Homo sapiens: one gene and its partners. The protein of the gene in region 2 purifies or fractionates together with the protein of the main gene of each other region. This does not show direct contact. Each region holds a gene or a part of one and is shown on either strand. Other genes may lie near its edges. The genes, in order: MEIS2, TSHZ1 and PBX3.

What was found.
Region 1: the proteins of TSHZ1 (region 2) and MEIS2 purify together in Homo sapiens (affinity purification with mass spectrometry; one large-scale study listed by BioGRID and IntAct). This does not show direct contact.
Region 3: the proteins of TSHZ1 (region 2) and PBX3 purify together in Homo sapiens (affinity purification with mass spectrometry; one large-scale study listed by BioGRID and IntAct). This does not show direct contact.

The regions. Positions count from the first base shown.
Region 1 is NC_000015.10:37,093,988-37,097,635, reverse strand, and holds part of MEIS2 (homeobox protein Meis2), read left to right. Parts: intron 1-1,205; coding exon 1,206-1,347; intron 1,348-2,021; coding exon 2,022-2,072; intron 2,073-3,058; coding exon 3,059-3,109; intron 3,110-3,648. UniProt on the Homo sapiens protein: Involved in transcriptional regulation. Binds to HOX or PBX proteins to form dimers, or to a DNA-bound dimer of PBX and HOX proteins and thought to have a role in stabilization of the homeoprotein-DNA complex.
Region 2 is NC_000018.10:75,209,501-75,213,731, reverse strand, and holds the start of TSHZ1 (teashirt homolog 1), read right to left. Parts: upstream 2,936-4,231; 5' UTR 1,856-2,935; coding exon 1,816-1,855; intron 1-1,815. UniProt on the Homo sapiens protein: Probable transcriptional regulator involved in developmental processes. May act as a transcriptional repressor.
Region 3 is NC_000009.12:125,911,283-125,914,930, reverse strand, and holds part of PBX3 (pre-B-cell leukemia transcription factor 3), read right to left. Parts: intron 1-3,648. UniProt on the Homo sapiens protein: Transcriptional activator that binds the sequence 5'-ATCAATCAA-3'.

The DNA of each region.
Region 1 (3,648 bases), on a different chromosome or scaffold from region 2:
CTAACAGAGGCCTTGACGAAGGAGAAAGTTTCCTGCCGATGAGAAGCAACTTTGGGTTTTTTTATTTTTTACTTTTTTTTCTTCTGTTTCCTACTGAGGGTCTGGGAGTCACTAACAGCAGCTTGAGCTGGGATCAGGGCTGCTTCTGTCGGCCAGGAAGTCCTAATCACCCACTTCTTAATTCTCTGTAAATAAAGGGGGCAGACCTCGAAGTGCAGCGAGGTGGAAGGGACTCTTGCTTGCTTGGAGCCGCTCTTAGGGGGAGTAAGGAAGATGGCTGGAAATTATTTTATATTCTGAGAGCACTTGGCGAGGGGTGAGATGCACGATCCTAACGTGTACCACACGAGCTCTTCCGGCTGAGGGTAGGTGGGCAAAGCGACGGGATGCCGAGGGGAGGGGACAGTGGGTAAACAGCAACTGAGCCCCAAGCCAGAGGCCGCAAGCATCCCGAAGTGTGGCTAAGCCGCCCGGAGGAACACAAAGGGCATACGCGCACGCACACTTAAAGTTTTAAAACACGATTTATTTATTTTTGTCTGCTGCAACGCTGGGAGAAATGTGGTCTTTGGAAGGAAGCTCTCCAGTGTGTAACCTTCCTATTATTTTGGCCCCCACACTGTGGCTTTAGTAGAACAGGAGCAAACAAGTTTATAAGGCAAGGAGGTGGAGAGATTAAAAGAGCATTCTCTTGCATTTATGAAGTGTCACTCCGGTGTGTATGTAGGTGAAGCCTTTGGCCTCGTCTGAAATGCCCATTAAAATGCAGAGTTAAAACTATTTTTTTTTCAATTTCACACAGTGTTCCCTTCTTGGGAGGTCAGGGCTGGGTCTCAGGGGTTGGTTCCGCGGCCTCCGTAGTGTGGGGAGTGGATCAGAATCGACTCGGGCTCCAGACTGCCTGAGCGTCTCGGATGTTTCATTACGTTCCAACTGAGGCTGTTTTTATTTGTCGGGCTGCAGTGGCCGGGGTCTTCTCTGGCCAGATCTGAGGGACCTCTGAGCTGCGGGAGAGGGCCAGGCCCTTTTCCCTTTCTGTTTCTGGCTTAGGCTCGCCTGATGGAGGAAGGGTTGTAAAGTGTGGTGCGTGCCTGTTGTATTAAAGAAGGACTCCACACCCTCCAAACTTGTTGATTACAGTTCTTGCTCCTTCCCCTCTGCACCCCGTCTCTGTGTGTGTGTCTCTGCGTGGCGCTGCCCGTTAGGCACCCGTTGTTTCCTCTGTTAGCTCTGGTCTTTGAGAAGTGCGAGCTGGCGACCTGCACTCCCCGGGAACCTGGAGTGGCTGGCGGAGACGTCTGCTCCTCCGACTCCTTCAACGAGGACATCGCGGTCTTCGCCAAGCAGGTCCAGCCTTCTTGATCCACTCAACTTCGGGCAGTCCCTCACTACCCCTCCCCTTTCCTCGGAGCTTTACTTGAAAGGAGGAAAGGCCAGGGACACCCTATCTGTTCCTCTGGCCCAGTCCGCTCTCTACGCCTCCTCCCCATCCCTGAGCCTGGGGGCGAATTGGAAGTGGAGATAAATATGGGTGTTTGTTTTCCCCCCCAGCAGGAATACAGGGGTCGACCCTCGAATTAAAGTTGACCTGCTCCTAATCTGGGGCTTGGCCTTTTTCCCCCGCCTCCAGCTACTTGAACAAGAATTGGGGAGAGGGGCTGTGAGGGACCCGGGAGTGCCCGGGAGGCAAGGAAGCTGGGCGCCTCTCCGAGCGGTCCCAGGCAGCAGTGGAGAGCCACAGCCTCTTGGACTGCTGGATATGGAACTCGAGGCCCTGAGAACGACCCTGAGTTCCTGGCTACAGCTTAGTCGTACCAGGTCCCCCTTAATGGGGCCAGGACCAGAATGCCCTGATTCTTCTTCAGGGACTCCACTAATTTAAGGCACCAGTTTCTTTCTTGTATTTTGCCAAAGCCCCTTTCCTCTTCTCCGCCATTGCCCTCCACCGTACCCATTCTCACATTTCAGCTTTCTTATTTTAAATGGGGTGATCGTTCAAGTTGACTCTCTGTTTCTTACAGGTTCGCGCCGAAAAGCCACTTTTTTCCTCAAATCCAGAGCTGGACAATTTGGTAAGGCTCTCTGTTCCTTGTTTTTCCCCAGCCTTTGCCCTCTCCCATGCCCAGAAGCACCCACTTTCTGCTGGAGCTCTGGGGAGTTAGAACAGAACCCTCTTTTGGAGCTCTAGGGAGAGAGGGAGGAAGGGAGCAGCTTAGAGCCCCCGCACGGGAGCTGGCGAGCGAGGAGCAGGATGAACGCGGTGGGGAGCGAAGCCCAGGGAGGCCGAAACGGGAGACCGAGCGCCGAGAGCGCGAGCAGGGGATGTTTCCCAGGTCTCGGCCCCAGGAGTAAACTGCGAGAAGTGAGTTATTTCCTCTGTTTGCCGGGGCAGGCGGCCGAGCCCCGGGCGGCTAACCCGAAGGATGTAACCACTGGCACGGCTGAGGGCGGGCTGGGGGTGGGGGCTGGGGGGCGGTGAGGGGCAGGCCAGCGCAGGCCACTTTTAGGTGCGATTCTTTTGCTAATTTGCACGATTTCAATATTAAAAGTACTTAAATCCGCTTTCAAAGGCCCTGCCTCAGCATTCATCTTGAGTATTTCCTTCTTTAGTGAGGAAGGATTTCGCTGGGTATGCTGTTCTAAAAAGCTTTTTCTATCCTGAGAAGGGACCTTTTTTTTTTTTTTTTTTTTTTAAGGAAAAAAAAAAAAGTTGTCCTGAGGTCGAGGGAGGGGATGTTTAAAGAGGACTAAGAGGAGAAAAAAGGCCTGGCCCGAGGAAAGCAGTCTTACAAATAGCACAGTGAACATCAGGGGGAAAGATATTAATGCTTATGCTCAGGTTGAGTCAGATTCCTACCCCGTGGCCAATGAGGCAGAGATGATCAGTAATCACTTGATTTTTCTGACTATTTCTTGATGTTTAAGTTTTTCCTGGCCACCTGCCCGTTTCTTCTCCCCAGCCCAACTTTCTCACCACCATCCTCACCCCACTCCCAACCCCAAGACAGGACCTCAGAGTCACAGAGCTCTAACTCCATTCCCTGAACTTTTCTTTCAGATGATACAAGCAATACAAGTACTAAGGTTTCATCTTTTGGAGTTAGAAAAGGTAAGCAGGAAATAACGCTCCCCGTGTTGATTAAACCATTTCCCTCTCCTAGTTGAGTTGGGATGTTTTTAACAAACCTCTAGTGTGAGGGATTGAGCACCTGGAGATTTTGAGCATGTAACCATGTCCATCCTTCAACTCGCTTCTCAACACAGGGGCTCAGAGGGTGGGTGAATCAGGACAGCCTTGCCTTTAAAGTAGCCTCCTCCTCCCCAATATTCCCCTCAGGCATTCAGGATTATTTTGAAATGCAGCAAACCATTTATGTTACTGGACACTCAGCCTGCTTGCATCTTTATTAGCTCAGCTCACCCTCGGCCCTGGGTTTGCATTAGGTGCAGGCAGAGTGAATCATCCTTGCTGGGTGTCTTTACATTGCTCTGCAGCTCAATTACTTTCCCCTGGAAACATACGAAACCCCTAGCTTATAAAATCACAAACGTTAATGCTCTCCCCAGCTCCAATGTTGTAATGTTTTGATGTTATTATCAAATCAGATTTAATTCCCTGGACTCCCACTCTGAACCCAGTTATTTCCA
Region 2 (4,231 bases):
AAAAGTCGCCTTGACGGCTTGTTTTTATGTAAGAGCTGCCAGGATGGATTACCATGCACCATCATGCCCTTGTCAACTTTCAAACCTTTTATTTAAAAAAAAAAAAAATGTGGTATTTAAAGTTGCAGTACCTCATTCCCTCAGCATTTTGTTTGTCCTTGGAAATATTCACCGCAATTTTAACTGCAAAAGTTCTTAAGAGTACAGGAGTAGTTTTCTGAACACAACTTTTTATTGTACATTCTGTCATTTAAAAAAAAATCCCTCTAACTGTGAAAATGTAAAGACCTCTTGTTTCTAGCATGAGCAAGTGGCGAATATCTTGAGACACTGAGCTATATTATTTGGGGGCTACCAGTGGCATAGATACTCTCTTTGAAAGGTTTCTTCCTCCATTACTCAAAGTTATTCCAAAATAAATATTCTCCATTCTGTTCCTTTTATGTTGTGAATACTCAGCATAAGGTAATCTCCTTCAACTCTTTGAGAGCATCTCTATCAGTGATCTAATGGAAATGATGAGGTTATTTTACTGAACCATTCATAAACGTAGATACTATTCCCAAATTTTTTTAGTAGCAGTAATCTCTGCTTTAAGTGCTTCCCCAGAAAAAGCACGTATAAAGACTTGAACACGTGCACATTACTGAATGTGATACTCAAACTTATTCAGATTCTATTCTGTACTGCAACAGCTAAAGAGTCGCTCATGTTTAAACATAAAACACTCCTTCTAATATTTTTACCCTAAGAGCTTGGAGAGAGTTGATTTACTCTATTATTTAGCGATAACTCACTGGCATATGGGTTGCATTCTCAGCCCCACAAACGCAATGTCCAAAACTGAGACAAGACTTGAGCAGGCAGCAGAATCACTGGGCTATTTTCAAACCTGTGCTCAAAAACGCACGGCAGCTGACCCACCCCAGGTTTAGCAATGGATTAGTAGGTGAGCTGAGTTAAGGGATGCTGCAGCTGTAAAACTTCTGAGACAAAATTAAAATGGAGCAGCAAAAGGGGGAGCGAGAGAGAAAAGTTGCCCTGATAGTGGCGGAGCTGTCAGGAGCATGTGTGTTTCCATGGTGAGTGATTTATTGATGTTTATCAGGAATGAATAGATCAAAGGCTGCCAGATGACAGGCGATCAATCACACATCAAATCAAGGATGGCAATCCTCTAATAAAACAGAAAACAAGGAAAACCAGCTCCTGCCAGTTCCTCCTCCAGAGAAAAATAACTTTTCTGTTCAATCAGAGTCTGCACTATCACTGCCTTGTGCTGGCCTGATCAAAAGACATCTTTAGAGGTAATAAAAAAAAAGTGGGGGCGGGGGGCCTCTTGCACAGGACATTAAAGGCTGCTGTTTTCCAGAGAAATCTTCTGAACACATTCTTTGCGTCCCAGCCTGGTGACCTTGTTTTCAAGTGTCAGGTTCAGCCTCCCCGCCTTTGGAGGACTTTTCCAGTGCGCTCCGGCAGCCAAGGAGCAACTACTTCCCCTCAGCGCACGCCCCCTCCTGAGGTAGCCAGAAGCACCCGCCGTCCCGCGGCCCCCGGCCTCCCCCGGCCATCCGGGCTTCCCGCAGCGCAGAGAAGCACCGCGAACTTTCTCTGCTCCACGCGCCGGCCCAGGTTGGGGGTGTGGGGGAGGACGGCGACCGCAGCCTCCAGACGACTGTGGCCAGCGCAGGCTGGGCCTCCCCTCCCCAGCTTGGGGCGGCCCGCGGCCCACGTCCCGCACCTCGGCCCGCGAAGCCCCCTCCTCCTGCTCCTCCCGGCGCCCACTCCCCGCGGCGCGGGCCGCGCGCCCGTTACCTGCCGAGCGCCGGGGGGCCTGCTGCTTCCTCCTCGGCATGCTGCTCGGCCGCCGCAGCCGTCGCCTCAGCCGCCGCCGGAGTTCGCGGGGCGCGGGGACGCGGGGCCCCGGGCGCGGGCGCAACTCCGCGGCGCGCCCAACTTTGGCCTCGTCCCCGCGGGCTCCGGGCTCCGGGCGCGCCGCGGACCGCGGGGAGCCGCTCGCATGGACCGCCGCGCCCGGGGCCGCTCAGGAGGCGGCGGCGGCGGCCGCGCGGCCCGCTTCCCGGCGCCGGGCTGCGGGCGGAGCGCGCGGGGCCTGGGCGCCGAGCCCGGAGTCATCCCCGGCGCGGGCCGCGGGCGCAGCAGCGGGCGCTCGGCGGGCCGGCCCGCGGCCCGCGCTCCATGCTGCCGCCTCCCCGCCGCCGCGCTGCTGCTGGGCGGGCGCTCCTCCCGGCGCGCCGCTCCGGGCGCTCCCCTGCGCCTTCTTCCGCGAGCCGAGAGTCGCCGAGCGCAACTTTCTCTCCCCCTCTCTCCTCGCTGTTTGGGGGTCGCGGCGAGTGTTTTTAGTGCGCGGGTCGCAGCTTTCTCATTGTGCGCCAGCGAGGCCGATGCAGGCTGTCCTTTTCCTCCCCGCACTTAGTCTAAGAGGAAGAAAGCAAACAAGACAGAGGAGTGAAGCCCCCGTACATACATGCGCCGGGGGGAGATGTCAGGCGCTGCTCCACCTTCCAAACAGTCACAGATCAAACAGTGTCACCCCGCCGGAGCGCCACTTGGTGCCCCGCGCTTCCACCCGGGGGGCTTGGCCGCCAGGATCGCCGCTTCTTCCAATGCGAAATCTAATGCAAACACATTTTGATCATGGATTTTTGGCCGGTCTTGATCTTCCAACAGAAAAAAATTTGAAAAATACACAAAAAGCACCCCCCCCTCCAAGAAAAAAAAAAGGCAACAACAACCCGGAGAGTGTGTGCAAAGGGGGTGAAGAGCAGACATTCACTGGGTGGGCGAGATGAGCGTGGACTGTCCCCCCCCCCCTCAAACTCCTGGGAGAGAGGGAGATGCACTCTCGCTCTCTCCTCTTTTCAGTGAAATATAACACACATTCGGATCGCAGAGCTTTCAGACAGTCTCAACTGATAGACAGACACATCGAGCTGCTTTTCCTGCTTCAGTTTTTACTCCTCCTCCTCTCGCCAACGTCACCCTGACAATTACAAATAGGTCTCTCACAAACCATACCTGTCAATCTTTTTAATTGCTTTGTTTTCTTTTTTTCGGAGCTAAACAATATGACAAAAAAAAGAAATCTTAATACAGCATAACATAAAAGATTGTACATTGGAGGAATTCATTCAGTGTTGTTATTGTAACCCACTGGCTGATACCGGGTAAAACCCATATGCTCTAAGTTAAGTAGACATTAGTTCCTGCAGATTTTTAAACCTGTTAGTTCCCCCCCAACACACACACATACACATACACACACTTGCACATTCATACACACGCAACCACGTGCATCCAAACTACCCTTGGGTGAAGCATGTCCTACATTTGGGGGGAAAAATATCTGTGTCGCTTTTGCAATCTCAGGTTGGGGGGTTAGATTTGGCTGGGGAGGAGCCCAGAGTAGCTTTTATATTTTGGTAATTCGTGGGTAACTGAAAAGCAAGATATTTTTAAAATTAAATTTTACAATTTAAATAAAAATGTAAAGATGGACTTAGTTCATCACAGAAAAGTGTGGAAATATTTAATTTGGCCCCTCTATAAAAAGTGAATTGACATTTGGTCCATGCACGCCAGTAGGGAGAAAACGGACACGATGGAACGACAGATCTTTCTAGCTGGGTTCGAAAATGAGGTCCTCACACAGCAGTGCAACGTCTCCAATTCAGTTAAGTCCCTCGGCATCCCCACGTAGAACTTTAAAATGTGTCTGTGCTCTGGGAATTTGGCCTTCTGGTTTTCTATATGTGTGTTCTCTCCCAATGGGAAACCTGTAACAGTCTTGTAGATCTACTTAAAACATTCATGGAAAAACATGAAATCTAGGCCAAAATAAATAAAATGGCTTAGTTCCTGCAACTTGCATGGGACAGACCGTGGACAGAAAGCACGCGCAAGGGGTTCCGGGGACAGGAAGCCACCAGCCTGGGGAGCGGGAGGCACTGGACATTTCCCCGCCCCGCGGTCGGTACGGGTGCGCGTGCGGCAGCGGCGGCAGGGGCTCCCCGCCCTGCCCGGGGTCCCCGGTCGTGCCCCGCCGCCCGGGCCGCGCTCGGGGTTGATTCGTACCACCTTGCAAGGAAGTGAACGCTTCGCACGGGAAGGGGAGGCGCCTGCGCCGGCCGCCGCGCAGCTCCGGGGACGCCCGGGGCTGCCGCCGGCTCGGGGCCGCAGACGACCGCGGGACGCGCGAGTCCCCCGTCCC
Region 3 (3,648 bases), on a different chromosome or scaffold from region 2:
GCAACCTCTTCTGAGTACTATAGATCATAGCTGACAATTCATAGGTTTAATCAGGTCACACAGGCTTTCTGCCAAAATGTTTTCAACAACACAGAAGACAAAGTTTTAAAATAATTATCATGGTATAAAAAGCATTGGAGTCATGACAGCTCAAAATCAGCATTTTCATTAATGTGTAACATAATCTAAAACATCCCAGCCCAATTAACCTCTGTAAATCTGCTTCAAAGCAGGTTCCCTACACTAGTTACAAGGCTTCTTGGGGAAGAGGGGAAAAGGAAGTTGGCACCTTGCTTGTTTGTATTTGGATTCTCTTTTGAGTCTGTGCCTGTTGTTGTTTATCCACAGTGGTACACACTTTGTGTCTAGTGTAACTTACATGACATAACATCTATAAGCTGCCAAGTACTCAACTGATCACCAACTCTGATTTTATATGCTAACCTAAAGCTACCGTCAATTCTTTTAAGAACAGATTTCATTCCTAGATGCCCTGAATTACATCCATGGCATGACAGAGCTCTTGGTTGCCTTAACACAAATGCAAAACTTTAATTTCTTCCCCAAAACACTTTAAAGCTGTCACTTTCATTTAAAATTATACTTCAGAATAATTTCAACTGGATAATAAAACTAACTCACCATAATTTAAAATTTTATCTGTTGTCTATTCAGAGGCAAATAAGGTTTGAAAACTATAATATACTAAGACAATATATTCATTTAGGAGAGCAAAAAGATAACTCATAAAATGCGTACCAACACACTGCTGATAATTAAAAATAGGCAAACGTATTTGCTGTTTCTTCTATAACTAAAAGGGACTGCCTAATATTGTTCTAGAACTGCCATGTATTGGTTAAGTTTGCATTTTTAATTTAAATCTTTAATTTTCCTCTCTTTTAATTCACTGTGTTAAATGTTAAAAATCTCACGACCTGTACATGCTTGTAGTTCACATAGCAAGTTTTTTGTGCATTTGGCATGCAATGAGAGCTTACTGAGCAATCTCTTATGCTGCACTTTGAATTGTTTAATTTTTTATTCTTGTTTGAGGACTTCTCAAGTTTCTCCATTTTCAACTGAATTTTTGCCCACAGTTTTGTGTGTTTGTTGATTTTTGTATTTACATAGACACTGGTGCCTCTCCTGAAATGTGTTTTTTTAATCTACCTTCAAGTTTCCTCCGGGTTTCTAGTTTTCCCCTTGTAGTTAAACACATTAATCTTTTCCCTATGGACATGTGGTGAAGTACTTTAATAGCAGATTAACTTCCATACCCAAAATGATTACACTTCCCTGCACATGTACGGCAAACAAGAGAAGAAGCTCAATGACAAACATACAAGGAAGTACACCATAAGAGAGACAGAAGGAAATTCATTAGGAACAAATGCAAAAGGCACAAAACTAATTAGCCATCTATGATACTTTTATACATATGTATATAAATACGTATATAAACCATCATTATTGTACCAATAAGAAGCAATCCATAAGCTCAAAAGCCGTGGACACAAATAAAAACAATTATAAGTATACAGTATCAATTACTATAACGTTTTACTCTTATAATGAAAAAATATCTTATTTCTAAAATTATCAGTAAATCAACACTAAGTGCTTGCCTCAAGAACAGGAAAATATGTTTTAATGCAATCCTTTGTATTTACTTTATAAATTATGTGCATCAAATTTCATCAGAAAAATCATTTCCTGACGGAAAACTCATAGTTCTTTAGATGAAAAGTACTAAAGTACTTTGCAAATAGGCAACAAGAAGAAGACTATCAATAATAAAGGAATTTTCATAACTAGTCTGAAAAGTGAATCGGTTTCTTTTCTTTATTAAGCAAAGTAATGATTATGGGATCTTTAAATACTAATACCTGGTTTCCAAAATTACTTTCAATTTGAATATTTCTATTTATTTTCTTACTTAAAAACATTTAGTTACCATTTTATTCCTCATCCTACCTACCTAGCCACTCACTATTACTTAGTTTACTAACTTTCTAGAGTTACACTGGCTTTTAGTCATAATACCTACTCCTCTGGGCACCTATAAACATTTTAATGGGTCTAAATTTGCAAGGGCCAGAATGAATCAGACTGTGTGGTTATCAAAATATCTTGATATCTTCAAATTGAAACATGGTAAAACAATCATTTAAAATTTGATTGTACTTGTTTTTAATCCAAAATGTATGTATAATGAAACATACAGAGGTTTATAAAGGTTTACATCTAGGTTCTTTGGTCATCACAACATTATAAAGTTTAAAAAATAAACCCTATTTGCAATCTACTTATAATCACAACATTCATTTCCGTATCCCTAAGATTTAGACAAATCATACAAACACAGTAAAACATTGTTTAACAATGAACTTGGCTTTGTTATAAGCCTACAGTTTTTGCATATCTTTCAGCAAATCCTAATTAGCTGTCTTTCAACATGCTGTGCACCTGCCCCACAGATAATGGGAGAGAGCATCTGCATAGACGACTGCATTTGGAGGGCAATAAATAAATTACGGGTCAAAATTATTACAAAGCTTTCTCCGAATAAACGCATACCCTTCACAATTCTAAGCTGCAGATGTGAAAAGTACCTAAAGCCCACTCAAATGGTATGATTACGGGGCTGTTTGAGTTTAATAATCTGACTGTAATTCAGGCATTTTCAACAGCTCATTAAGGGTTCATTAATATATAGGCAAGCTTTTGAATTATAAATAAGCAGATTAGAAATCTGCATTGGCTAGATTGTACAGTAGGAGCCTTTCTAACAGAAGAACACTGTAACACAATGAAGGCTTGACCTGAGTGAATGAGGTGCAAACAACACAGTGCACTAACTAAGCTTTGTGGCTCCCTCATTTCAAGGACCAAGCCCACTGGACCATGACTAACCTCTGTTCATCCAGCACTGAAGAGTATGGCTTCAGACCATAGCTATTTCAAATATGTTCTACACGTGGTCCTGAATTAGACGTAACTAAGATCTAGCCCTACAATATTTCCATAATCAGGGAAGATAGATAATATCCATAATAATGATAAAAGTTGTCATCACATCACTTTTACTTAGTAAAGAGTACATTATTCAGACCTGCTGAGAAACAAAAAGCTATTATGGAAACTTGAGTTGTTTGATTTTTTTTTCTCCTAATGAGCATACCATAAATTTAGGCCCCAAATTATTCATAAGCTTAGGCCTACGACGTCGCTGTAATTTTGTTTTCTGATGGACTTGTTTTTTGATTCATTCAACTACCACACCACAGTCTTAGCTCAGAGAAAAATGTTTTAGCAGAGTGCCATGTAAAACAAGGCCAGATGAGATATTTTCAGCAGGCCCTGAATTCTTGACTGCTTTGAAATAAGCGACAATTTTAATATTAATGTTTTCTGTTATTCTTATAATTTTTCATAGCTTTTCTTTTGTGTCTGTTATTTTAAAGTAACATGCAGGATAGTGGTCAGAAGTCACAAAGCTAATTAGTAAAAATACCTACTTTATTTTCTGTGCTTTCTTCATTTAAAAATCAAGTCAGCCACAGTTTGAGAAGTGTAACCCAAACTATAGATGAAGAAGAAAGATTAAGACAGACGTGTTGCTACTTTTCTCCCCAAACATAAAAA